Homo sapiens: one gene and its partners. The protein of the gene in region 1 binds, or shares a complex with, the protein of each later gene. Each region holds a gene or a part of one and is shown in the gene's direction. Other genes may lie near its edges. The genes, in order: CWC27, CWC22 and PLRG1.

Region 1 (3,750 bases):
CCTCAGTGTCCTCATCTGTAAAATGGGAATATTAATACTCATTTCACAGTGCAGTTGTGAATATTAAATGAGATAGAATACAATGTTTGATATAGTATCTGACATATTTGACTTATAAATATTAGTCAATATTAGCTACAGTTACTATCTACTTAATTTCTCACTTACCTCCCATTTGTATTTGAGTTCTATCCACAGAAAACATCTTTCATTCTGACATATTTGACACATAAATATTAGTCAATATTAGCTACAGCTACTACCTCTGTACTTAATTTCTCACTTATCTCCCATCTGTATTTGAGTTCCATCCATAGAAAACATCTTTCATTTCCTCTTTTCACATATTTCCTCTTCCTTTACGTATCCAGTTCCTCCGACTGCAGTCTCCTCTCCCTTCAAGCCACCCCTCCTACAATTCAGATCTCCTCCTAAGTGCTACCTCCTTTGGAAAGTCCTTCTGCCCATCCTGTATGTGTTTGGTGCCCTTACTTTGTGCTAAGGTCTTGTATTTTCCTTGCCATGGCACTTGTCCCACTTTCTGTAAATTTCTCTCTCTTCACTGCTAAATTCTAAGTTCTGTGTGAAGCGTAACCATGTCTACCTTGCTCACCACTGTATTTCCAATGCCCAGTACCAGTGCCTGGCACACAGTAGGCTTAATAAAGAGTGTACATTTCCTCTCTCACAGCTCCAGATGTACTCCTCCGCAAACTTCAGTTAGTACAAAAGCACAGTGTTCCAATAACAGCTATCTGTAGAAGGAGGTTCAAAAAGGCTGCCACAGAATAAAGAACCTGGTCAAATAATACTGGGAAGTGCAGGTTTAAACAAAGTTAGGGTTCTGAACCATAGTAATTCTATAGTTCATAGTAATTCTATAGCAATTCATAGTATTCTATTCTAATAGAATAGAATCTTTTCTATTACTAAAGTGCGCTGGGAATTTCCAAGTTGGGAGGTGGGGTGGAGAAGTGTGTATTTCTGAAAATGTCTCCTGCAATCAGTGTTCTGCAGTGGCAAAGCTGGTTTGAGGAGATGCTTTCCGCTACTAGAACTTCCAAGTAAGCTGGTAGTTGAGGACGAGAAAATCTTTTAAGTAATTATTCTGCAGAGTTCACCGTTTTTAGGTCAGTAACTTCTGGACATAGAATTTGAGAGTTAGAAGAAATCTTATATATAATTCAACAAAGCTCCTTCTTTTTATAAGGAAACTGAGGCCCAGAAGCACAAAGCGACCAATCTATGGCCACGGAGCAGCTACATACAACAGGAAGAGCTAGGAGTAGAACCCGCACACCCGGTGGGTCCTAGCGACTTCTAAGACAAACGATGCCTCCGGTTACCTGGGTCGGCCAAGTGTTCCCACTTCAAGTTTTAGTTTTAAGCCATACCACAGTTAAGGTAGTTTTTCTCGGCCGCTTGCCCCCTTAGGCCTACAGTTACAGTCTCTCCCTCCTCCCTCCCTTCCACAATACACTTTCCCTGTAATCCCAAGCAGCTGGGGCTTGGCTCCTGGGGGGAAGATAGTTATTTTCTTTCCTTCAGAGTTTATGTTTGGAGTGTAAACTTTTTCATGTAAACAAAACAAACCTGTGAATTTTAAGGCCTCCGCCTAAATCCCCATGGGCGCTGCTCCGTACACGCCGCACCCTACCCTACCCTCCCTTGCGCTCCCTTCGGAGCTCGGACGCAGAGGCCCTGTAATTGCTCCTTACCTGGGACTGCCATGACGGTGGTAAGAGGGGTAACTCGAGCCTCTGGCTTTCGAAAAGGCGCTTGCTTCCCGCCAGCTGTGAGAACAAGGCACAGTCAAAGCGGCGTTTTCCTTCCCCCAGCGCAGCAGCACCCTCGCTACGGTCGGGAAGGGCCTGTACGCCTCTAGCGACGGCAGAACCAGTAGATGCGGATGCAGTTTCCGGACGAGTCATATTGCAGAAGACACATGGTCCGAACCATTACTGATAGTTTTGGAGGGGGAGTTAGTTTGATCTGCACACGAGAGTAGTGTAAACACCGCCAACACTTATGAAGTGTCCCTTCTAATATTGTAATACAAATAACATAAATAACATTAAGCTATGGTAACTTTACGGACTTTTCTCGTTCCCTGGAGTACATTGGAATAACCCTTCTCAGGGTTAGCGGTGCTCGGGTCCGGTAACAACATGGCGGCGTCCGTGAGGGGCTCCTTTGGGCAGGGGTAGTGTTTGGTGTCCCTGTCTTGCGTGATATTGACAAACTGAAGCTTTCCTGCACCACTGGACTTAAGGAAGAGTGTACTCGTAGGCGGACAGCTTTAGTGGCCGGCCGGCCGCTCTCATCCCCCGTAAGGAGCAGAGTCCTTTGTACTGACCAAGATGAGCAACATCTACATCCAGGAGCCTCCCACGAATGGGAAGGTGAGAGCCTCATCTAGGGAACTTGGGGTCCTGGGATCCCCAAAGTGAGATTTCCCGGATTTGGGGTGGGGAGTGGGTTTCAGGATCTCGTGGTAGGAAGAGACCACGAGAAGTGTTGTCTTTACTCCTGCATGTGGACAATGTTGCATCGAAACACTGATGTTGGTACTTTTCAGGATGTACTTGAAGAAGTCAAGTGGAGATTTCTCTACCTACCAGCATTCCGGTCCTATTTAATGCTTTAACCCAACTCATGCAGCCGATTTCTGGGGTCTTAGGTTTTTAAACAGACATTTTTGAGTTTGATATATTCTTTGCTTAACTAAGGTCATTCATTCTCCATTTCTTCTACAATCATTAATTGAACGCCTGCGAGGCACTGGGCACTGTACTAGGCGCCGGAGATACAAAGATGGATGGGTAAGGTAGTTGTTTTCCCGGAAAAGCTTATAGTTTAGTTTGTGAGACAGACAGGTAAACAAAAGCCTGTATGTCTGATAAGCGTGCTTGTGGAGAAGAGACCAGGTTGCTATGGCGGTACTGAGTAGTGAACAACTGGGGAAGTTAGGAAAAGCCTCATGGAAAAGATATCTTTTGAGCTGGTTTTAAAACCTGAGATGACTGTCAGTCAGAGAAAGTGGGAAATGGGGACTATTACCACATTAGAATGGGGAAAGGTTTCTCTGATTGATTTGATGGCTAATGTATGCCAATTCCCATCCAAGATGTTTGTATGCTGTACAAGGCAGAAGAGTCTGTTGTGGAATAAGTGTCACCTGAATTCTTAAATTGAGACCTAGCTTATATCACATATGAAATTTGATGAATCAGCATATTGGAGAAAATGAGATTGGAAGTATATAGTTGAATTAAGATAAGCTAAATTTACACAACATACCATCCTGTTTGTTACATGATTGCATCATAAATAATTTATACAGTCTTTTATTCATTGACATTTGATAATGTAATGAGAGCAATTTAAAAGTGAAACCAAAAATGCTGTAATTCCCAGCAAAAATGTAATGGATATTTTATGGGCAGACCAATTCTTTCAATTCTTTGTTTGAACTTCTCCTGGGCATTGTAGATTAGTATGTCCATCCCACCCCTCACCTATCTTATTTAATATCAATGTGAAAACCCAAAATACCTACCTCCTCCTATTTCCAAATGTTTCTTGAGGGCAATATCACCCCCAGTTAATAAACACTGGTAGAGATTGAATAGATTTACCATCCTGCCAGACAGGGCCTTCACACTTGCTGTTCCTCTGTCTAATCAAGTGTTGACCTTAGCAAAGAGCCCTTTCTTATCTACTTTCTATGAAATAGCAAACTTCAATCAT
Region 2 (3,750 bases), on another chromosome or scaffold:
TTATTATTCATAACTCTTTCTCAGTGTCTGCTTCCTGAAGGACCCAACTGACAAATCCAATTCTTTTCCAGCTCCATCTAGTTCTCCTCTGCTCAACCCTAACTTTCCTATTTCTGTTGATAGTTGTAGAGGTAGTATATTCATCAGGGTTCCCTAGAGGGACAGAACTAATAGGATATAGATAGATAGATAGATAGATAGATAGATAGATAGATAGATACACACACACGCACACACACACGTATATATATCCTATTACATATATATCCTATTTTTTATATATATCCTTATATATATATCCTAATATATATATCTATATATAAGGATATATATATAAAAAGGGGAGTTTATTAAGTATTAACTTACACAATCACAAGGTCCCACAATAGGCTGTCTGCAAGCTTGAGGAGCAAGGAGAGCCAGTCTGAGTCTCACAACTGAAGAATTTGGAGTCCAATGTTTGAGGGCAGGAAGCATCCAGCATGGGAGAAAGATATAGGCTGGGAGGCTAGGCCAGTCTTGCCTTTTCATATTTTTCTGCCTGCTTTATATTCGATGGTAGCTGATTAGATTGTTCCCACCAGATTAAGGGTGAGTCTGTCTTCCCCAGTCCACTGACTCAACTGTTAATCTCCTTTGGCAACACCCTCACAGATACACCCAGGATCAATACTTTGCATCCTTCAATCCAATCAAGTTGACATTCAGAATTAACCATCACCGGTAGTATTGTGGGTTTTTAAATATATGAATACAAATGTTCATCTCCAGATCCATCTCCTGTGCCCTGTATTGGTGCACCAAAATGCACCATCAACAATGGCCAAATATCTTAAATATGAAATAAAATAGATAACACTATTGTATACTAGCAATTATCTTAAATGCATCTTGTGTATCAACTAATTCAATTCTTAAAACTACTGCCTGGATGGATACTATTGGTATTTCCATTTAACAGATCAGGAAACGGCCACAGAATGTGAAGTTACTTGCCCCAGTCATCCATAAATAATAAAAGGACTCAAGATTCAAAATAAGTAGTCCAACTGCAGTGTTTTTATTCTTAATCATCACACTCTGCCTCCAGAAAGGAGTGGAAGCACAGCACCCTAAAACTGTAATAGAGAAGTGTGTGGAGAAACCAGTCCTGGTTTATGAAAGATTTGATAACATAAAGATATTCTTGGTTTAGGAAGAGAGTTTCCAAAATAGCAAGTAGTTGAACTTTTAGGTTTTGTTACTAGTGAAAAGTGAAGTTTAAAGAAACTGTTTGATGCCCTAGTTCTGCACGCTGTACAAACTGCTACTTCCTACTCAGCCAGGCAATCTCTTTATTCTCAGGTCATACCAGTTGGTACCTTAACCTAAAAGAGAGGCAACACAGTCTCTATAGAATTAGTTTTTCCTCATTATTTCACTCTATTTATGATTTAATATTCTCCCATTCTTATGGCCTGGATATCTTGGAATTTATTAGGCACTTAACTGTTGGTCAAACTCTTATAAAGTCTCAGGAAAATCTCTCTCTTAAGATTTTTCAAGGAAAGTGACAACTGACTGCTTTTTTAAAAAAAATTTCCCCAAAATGCAGTGAAATAGTTTTAAAGTAAATTCGGCTAGACCCTGAACACTACTAGGCTGCCAGTGAGCAGCGTGGATGTTAACTCGCTGGCGCGCATCTGTATGAACTACAATTCCCATCGTACACCGCGCCATTTCACGCTAAACTACAATTATGCTTTCCTCATTTCCGTCAGCACAGGCGCTGGATTTCGGACTTTGTAGTTCATGCCAACTTCTCTTTTTTGTCGCCATTTTGGCAACAAGACAGTGTGCCTGGATCGACTACTTTGACTCTGGTATTATGATATGGTATTTGAAATAAATTAAAGGGATAACGTGTCAAGCCAATTGAGCGTCAAGTTTTTAAATATTTCACTATTCGCCTTCTTCCTACCGTCGGTGCTCGGGAAGAGGAAGTGACGTACGTCCGGTGTAATGGCGGCGCGGTGGAGCTCTAGGTAATTATCGAACTCCGTGGAGTCCCCGCAGGCAGAGACGCGGAGTGGGGGTGGCGGGTCGCCGGATCGGGTGGGAAGTAAAAGACCCCCAGGAGTGGGTGCGGGCTCACTGATACGGCTGTGAGCGGCATTGGAGTGTGCGTGGGTCTTCTCGCTACGCTCGGGCCCGCAAGAGGGGTGTGAGAGCGGCTAGGTCCAAGCAGGTGGGGAGGGAATGGGCTGCCATGAACTGACTGCCTGAGCGGACCGGCTGACCTTCCTTGTGAAGTTCCTGGAGCTGTCTGAAATCCTGCACCAACGCTGGTGCTGTGTTGTTTCTTGTGCACTGCGTTTTATACTTAGAGCCTCTGGAGTCCATTGGGGCTTGCCAAAGCCCCTTTCCTAGTGCCCGGGTCCCAGGGTCAGGGGAGTGGGATTAATGAGATCTAGTTGATTAAAAGTTAGTTGAATTACTTGCACTCTTATGCCTCTTGCCGGCATTATATCCCTTTGACTATTTGTTTTAAATTTCATTAGCGTCTTCTTTTTCATTTATTTGCCCTGTAAATACTGATAGTGTCTAGTGTTTAGTCTTGAAGACACTTCGCTTCTCATGTGCCCGCTTCATCTGTCATTCTTGATCCTTCCATAACTTGAACTATCTCCAGTGAGGTAATAACTGCCAAACTTGGGTCTCCAGGCTCCACCTCTCTAACGAGCTCTGGGTCCTACAACACAGCATTATATAACGGAAATATAATAGTTAATTTCACTGAGTTTAACTGCAAAAACCACGGTACCTATTTCCATTTAATCCTAACAATTCTTCTGAGGTAAGTGGAGAAGGCAGGATTTGGAGAAAGGCTATTCTAGATGCAAGAATTAGGTAAGAGTTTCCTTTGCATTTTTAGATGTGCAGAGACTCGAAATAGCAGATAAGCAAGCAAACTTGGTTCTCAGCAGATCAGTTAACCTACCTCTTATCTGTATTTAGACTTACCTTGTTTTAGGATTGCTTGTGAATTCAGGAGTTAACATAAATTATCATCCTACTATGGAAGGGCAGATTTAAAATTGACATTAAAAGTGTGGTTTTGACCAGGAGAGGAGAAGCATTGTTACAGGCGTTATCAGTAGGTGGAGGAAAGCCACTTGTGTTGGTCCTGGGTGATGGACTAGTAGACCAAAGATTTCTGTTTTATCCAGCTATTATTAGGTCTGTCACTTGGAGCAAGTTACCTAAAGTCTCTAGTGTCAGCTTCATCATCTGGAAACATGTAGGTAGTAATACAATACCTGCCTCACTGTATTGTCTTTTTTTGAGTATAAAGAAAAATAATGCAGATGAGGCACTGAGCACAGCGTTAGCGTTGTATTATTGTAAATTACTACTATGATACAGTTGATGAGTTCTCTCTGTTCCTCAATTCTTGTTCTCTGGTTCTGAATGTTGCCTTTCCACCTGTAAGTGTCCTTCCAGTTGTTTTTTGTTTTTTGTTTTGTTTTGTTTTGTTTGAGACGGAGTCTTACTCTGTCGCCCAGGCTGGAGTGCTGTGGCGCTATCTCGGCTCACTGCAAGCTCCGCCTCCCTAGTTCATGCCATTCTCCTGCCTCAGCCTCCCAAGTAGCTGGGACTAAGGTGCCCGCCACCACGCCTGGCTAATTTTTTGTATTTTTAGTAGAGACGGGGTTTCACTGTGTTAGCCAGGATGGTGTCTGTCTCCTGACCTTGTGATCCACCCGCCTC
Region 3 (3,750 bases), on another chromosome or scaffold:
TCTATATTTATCTAAAATATTGTAAACTTTCAAGGGGATGACATCATTCTATAAATTCACGACAGTGTTTTAAAAGGAGCAAATTCGAGGCAATTTACCTCAATCATTACCATGTTGTTATTGAGAAATTAAATTAATGTCTCCAGGATGATTAAATATGTAAAAAGTTAATAGATCCAACTAGACAATTAATATATTGCCATATATATTAGTCTTGCTTAGGTTTCTATGGTTTTATTGTCATTTCAAATCATGTTATTTTCTATAGTTATTATTAATAGGTGAGTATATTATTTAGTTCATCAAGTATATATTTTACAATTATGGTATTTTCTTGCAAGGAAATACCATCACCTGCCACCTTTACAGAAAAGCAATTCTTAGGCCAAACTCACAGTTAAATTCAGAGATGCTGTATCTTCAAGTAAAAACATGACCTTAAGGCAGGGCTCAGTGGCTCATGCCTGTAATCCTAGCACTTTGGGAGGCCGAGGCGGGCGGATCACCTGAGGTCAGGAGTTCAAGACCAGCCTGGCCAACATGGTGAAACGCTGTCTCTACTAAAAATACAAAAATTAGCCGGGCATGGTGGCGGGCGCCTGTAATCCCAGCTACTCCAGAGGCTGAGGCAGGAGAATAGCTTGAACCTGGGATGCTGAGGTTGCAGTGAGCCAAGATCGCGCCATGGCACTCCAGCCTGGGCGACAAGAGCGAAACTCTGTCTCAAACAAAAACCCATGACCTTAATGTTTTTAATGAATTTCCAAGTAAGGTTGATTTATATTGCTATTCTTTTGCTAGATTTTTTCCCCCTCTCAAAGTGTAAGCAGTATGCTCTCAGGACAGGATTAGTGAAACTGAAACAGGGCCAGTAAAATGTTTGTCTATTTAAGTTTGTAAATGCCTAAGTCCATCCATTTTTTTTTTTACATAGAAAAATAATTGGGTAGGGTTGATCACAAACCACAGATTTTACCAGGGTAGAAAGCAAAAATACCAATACTTGGCACAAGGATATGTATAAATAAAAATGGCTAAAGTCTCCAATTGTGTCTTCTACCAGCTTTGAAAAGCTGTACCCTGGCATTGTTGAAGCCACAATAATCAGCAGGCAACTAGGAAATGGACAAGAGCTATGCAGTTTTGAGAAATTAAAAAAAAAAATCTATTAGCAGAAAATAAATATGGGGTTTTGTTATAACTACATGTCAAAATTTTCCAAATTAAAACAGCTATTCCTCAACGTTCACTTAACAAGTGTTTACTGGACTGTTTAAGCGAAATTGTTTTCAGGTGTTAAGCCTACAAGTGTCCAAGTGCTTCTCGCCAGGATTAGAACCAGGAGACACAAAGCACGCAGGCGACCTCCAAAGAGATCAAGGTAGTGGAAATGCCTTAGATAGAGCCCACGGGAGTTTGCTCTCCAGACGCTTAGGTTCTCTGAATAAAAAGCGTTAAGCTTCCGGGGAATACAGCACGAACAACCAGGACCCCAACTAAGGCAGAAAACATAATTCTAAGATTTCTTCAGAGGGACGAGTGAAACCCTCCACCCAGGCCCTTCCAGGAGTCTCCGGCTTTCAGCCTCGAGACTCCGCCCTAGAGGCGGTCCCGAGGAGGGAGACCCGCCTCCTGATCCTAGATGGCCGAGGGAGACTAGCGCGCGTGCGCAGAGCTTGCATCACATCCGCCGCCTGGGCGCCCAATTCCGGAAGGTGCTGCACAGCTGTGGCGGCGGGTACTGCGTTAGTGATTAGAGTTTCTTCCCTGCCGGAGGTGGGATACACGGTAGCATCATGGTCGAGGTAAAGTGACACTGGGGCTCTCAAGAGTCGTTTGTCTCTGGACTGTTTTTTTTGGCAGTGCGCGTGGGGGATTGAGAGTACTTGGAGTCCAGAGAGAAAAGAGGCTACGAGGGGAGCTATTTGGCCAAGGCCGAGTGGTCTCTTCTTCGGGTTTTCGGGGAAGGGGTAGAAGCCGGATGAGAACCCGAGTCGGAGGTTCAGCCTGGGCGCGAAGCCTGAGATAATTCGTCCAGTCCTCGTTTGACTCTTGGGAGCTGGAAAGTGTCCTCGGAGGCGGGGCCTCTGTTGGTGATCGACCACTGGTACTTGCCGCCCTCGGGGCAGTGTCAGTGAGTCTGTGCCCTAAAAGATTGGTAGTCTTCTCTATCTTGCGTTCAGGTCGTCTCTTATTTCACCTCTACCCCCAGAAAAACTTGCCGTTCTTTACATCTTTCCCTGGCATGAACAGCCAACGCTGTTAGCTGGTCTTGTCCATCTTACCCCACATGTTTATTGATTCCATTCACTCTTCTCCATATCCGCTGCAGTCCACCTTAATTGAGACCAACATCATCTTTCACCTGGACTGGTGCATTAGCTCCCCGTTGGTTGGTTTCCTTGCTTCCATTTTGTTCTATAAGTTGTTCTGTTTAAAACGTAAGTTGTTCATACCTTTCTTGTTTAAAACCCTTTACTGACCCTATGTTGCTAGAACAAAATATAGGCTGTTGTAATAGTCTAAAAGACCTTACCTAATCTGGACCTTGTCTACCCTTGCAGCTACAAAGCACCATCTCATCCTCCATACACAGCTGTACTGCGCTCCTTGTATTATTTCAGTTAACTGAACTTTTTTTTACATGACATTTCCATCAGCCTGGTTCGTTCTTACCTCTGTTTTGTGCAAGGCTAACTCCCTTTCTGCTTAAATATCACCTTAGTGAAATCTTTCACAATTATACTTAGTCCTTCATTCCCTGACTCAGCGCCTTGCTTGTTGCCTTCATAGCACTTATCAAAATGTGGAATTATTTTACTTTTTATTTGTCTGTTTCCTCTTGAGCACAGGGACCATGACCACCTTTTTATCATTCTATTGTGAGATTCTAGCACAATACCTGCCAGACACACAGTAGGAGCTCAGTAAATATTTATTGAGTAAGTTAAACTCCGGCATCACTCAGTTGCTAAACCTGAGGTTCTAGCCAAAGAGGAGCTTCCTCCTCTTCTCTGAACTTGACTCCTGTAGCTTGCAACAAGTAGCTATGGTGAGTGGTATAAAGCTTTTTACATATTTAAACACGTGAAGTGTATAATCAATCTGACTTTAGGTTATGATTTGTGTAATTTGTAGATAGGTGTGTAATTACATTCTTTTTTTTTAGGAGGTACAGAAACATTCTGTACACACCCTTGTGTTCAGGTCGTTGAAGAGGACCCATGACATGTTTGTAGCTGATAATGGAAAACCTGTGCCTTTAGATGAAGAGAGGTTGGTGTAGTTTTTTTTTTTCAATTGCTAAAATACTTAACATTCTAATACTAGGGGAAGAGAGCAGGGAGAGGGAGTCCTTTAAAGATAAGCTAGTCATGGGCTAATTATTCAATAATGAGTGGTGTTTTGGCATAATTTAAGCTGATTTAACTTTTTTTTTTGGCCTTTTACAGTAAAAGTTCCATTAATTAATTGCATTTTACAAATACCCAGTAATTAAGAGAGTCCCTTTTAGGTATTTTATTTTATAATCAATCACTTTGTATGTGCTTTCAGCTTCCCGCTGCTCTCAGAGCCTTGCTGAGCTGAAATTGTACCTGGCTAGTACCTCTACTCCCATCTTTTCTCGTTAGTATGATGAAGATTTTTGAGTGGTGGCATATTTTTGGTTCTACATATCCAGCTCCAGTCTGGGAATGCATTATGTGCAGTGTTCCTTCTTTGTCCTTTACCTTTTTAAAATCTACTTAA

Evidence for each region.
Region 2: the proteins of CWC27 (region 1) and CWC22 are in contact, whole or in part, in a crystal structure (PDB 6YVH), measured with the Homo sapiens proteins. Residues at the interface, in NP_005860.2 of Homo sapiens: Arg381, Glu382, Asp383, Gln384, Thr385, Leu386, Leu388, Leu389, Phe392, Lys393, Lys395, Leu396, Thr397, Ile400, Glu412, Asp415, Asp416, Glu417, Gly418, Trp419, Met420, Ser421, His422, Val423, Leu424, Gln425, Phe426; in NP_001362958.1 of Homo sapiens: Leu239, Arg242, Lys243, Tyr245, Arg246, Asn248, Asp249, Lys250, His270, Glu271, Val272, Leu275, Glu276, Thr279, Leu280, Leu281, Glu283, Arg284, Thr286, Asp288, Ser289, Val292, Val307, Ser308, Pro309, Arg310, Gly311, Thr367, Met369, Leu372.
Region 3: CWC27 (region 1) and PLRG1 share a complex: the UniProt entries of both Homo sapiens proteins name them as parts of the minor spliceosome.

The regions. Positions count from the first base shown.
Region 1 is NC_000005.10:64,766,787-64,770,536, forward strand, and holds the start of CWC27 (spliceosome-associated protein CWC27 homolog), read left to right. Parts: upstream 1-2,143; 5' UTR 2,144-2,360; coding exon 2,361-2,402; intron 2,403-3,750. Other genes in the region: protein SREK1IP1, read right to left, coding at 1,719-1,731. UniProt on the Homo sapiens protein: As part of the spliceosome, plays a role in pre-mRNA splicing. Probable inactive PPIase with no peptidyl-prolyl cis-trans isomerase activity. As a component of the minor spliceosome, involved in the splicing of U12-type introns in pre-mRNAs.
Region 2 is NC_000002.12:180,005,344-180,009,093, reverse strand, and holds the start of CWC22 (pre-mRNA-splicing factor CWC22 homolog), read left to right. Parts: upstream 1-1,796; 5' UTR 1,797-2,227; intron 2,228-3,750. UniProt on the Homo sapiens protein: Required for pre-mRNA splicing as component of the spliceosome. As a component of the minor spliceosome, involved in the splicing of U12-type introns in pre-mRNAs. Promotes exon-junction complex (EJC) assembly.
Region 3 is NC_000004.12:154,548,355-154,552,104, reverse strand, and holds the start of PLRG1 (pleiotropic regulator 1), read left to right. Parts: upstream 1-1,704; 5' UTR 1,705-1,796; coding exon 1,797-1,805; intron 1,806-3,169; coding exon 3,170-3,276; intron 3,277-3,750. UniProt on the Homo sapiens protein: Involved in pre-mRNA splicing as component of the spliceosome. Component of the PRP19-CDC5L complex that forms an integral part of the spliceosome and is required for activating pre-mRNA splicing.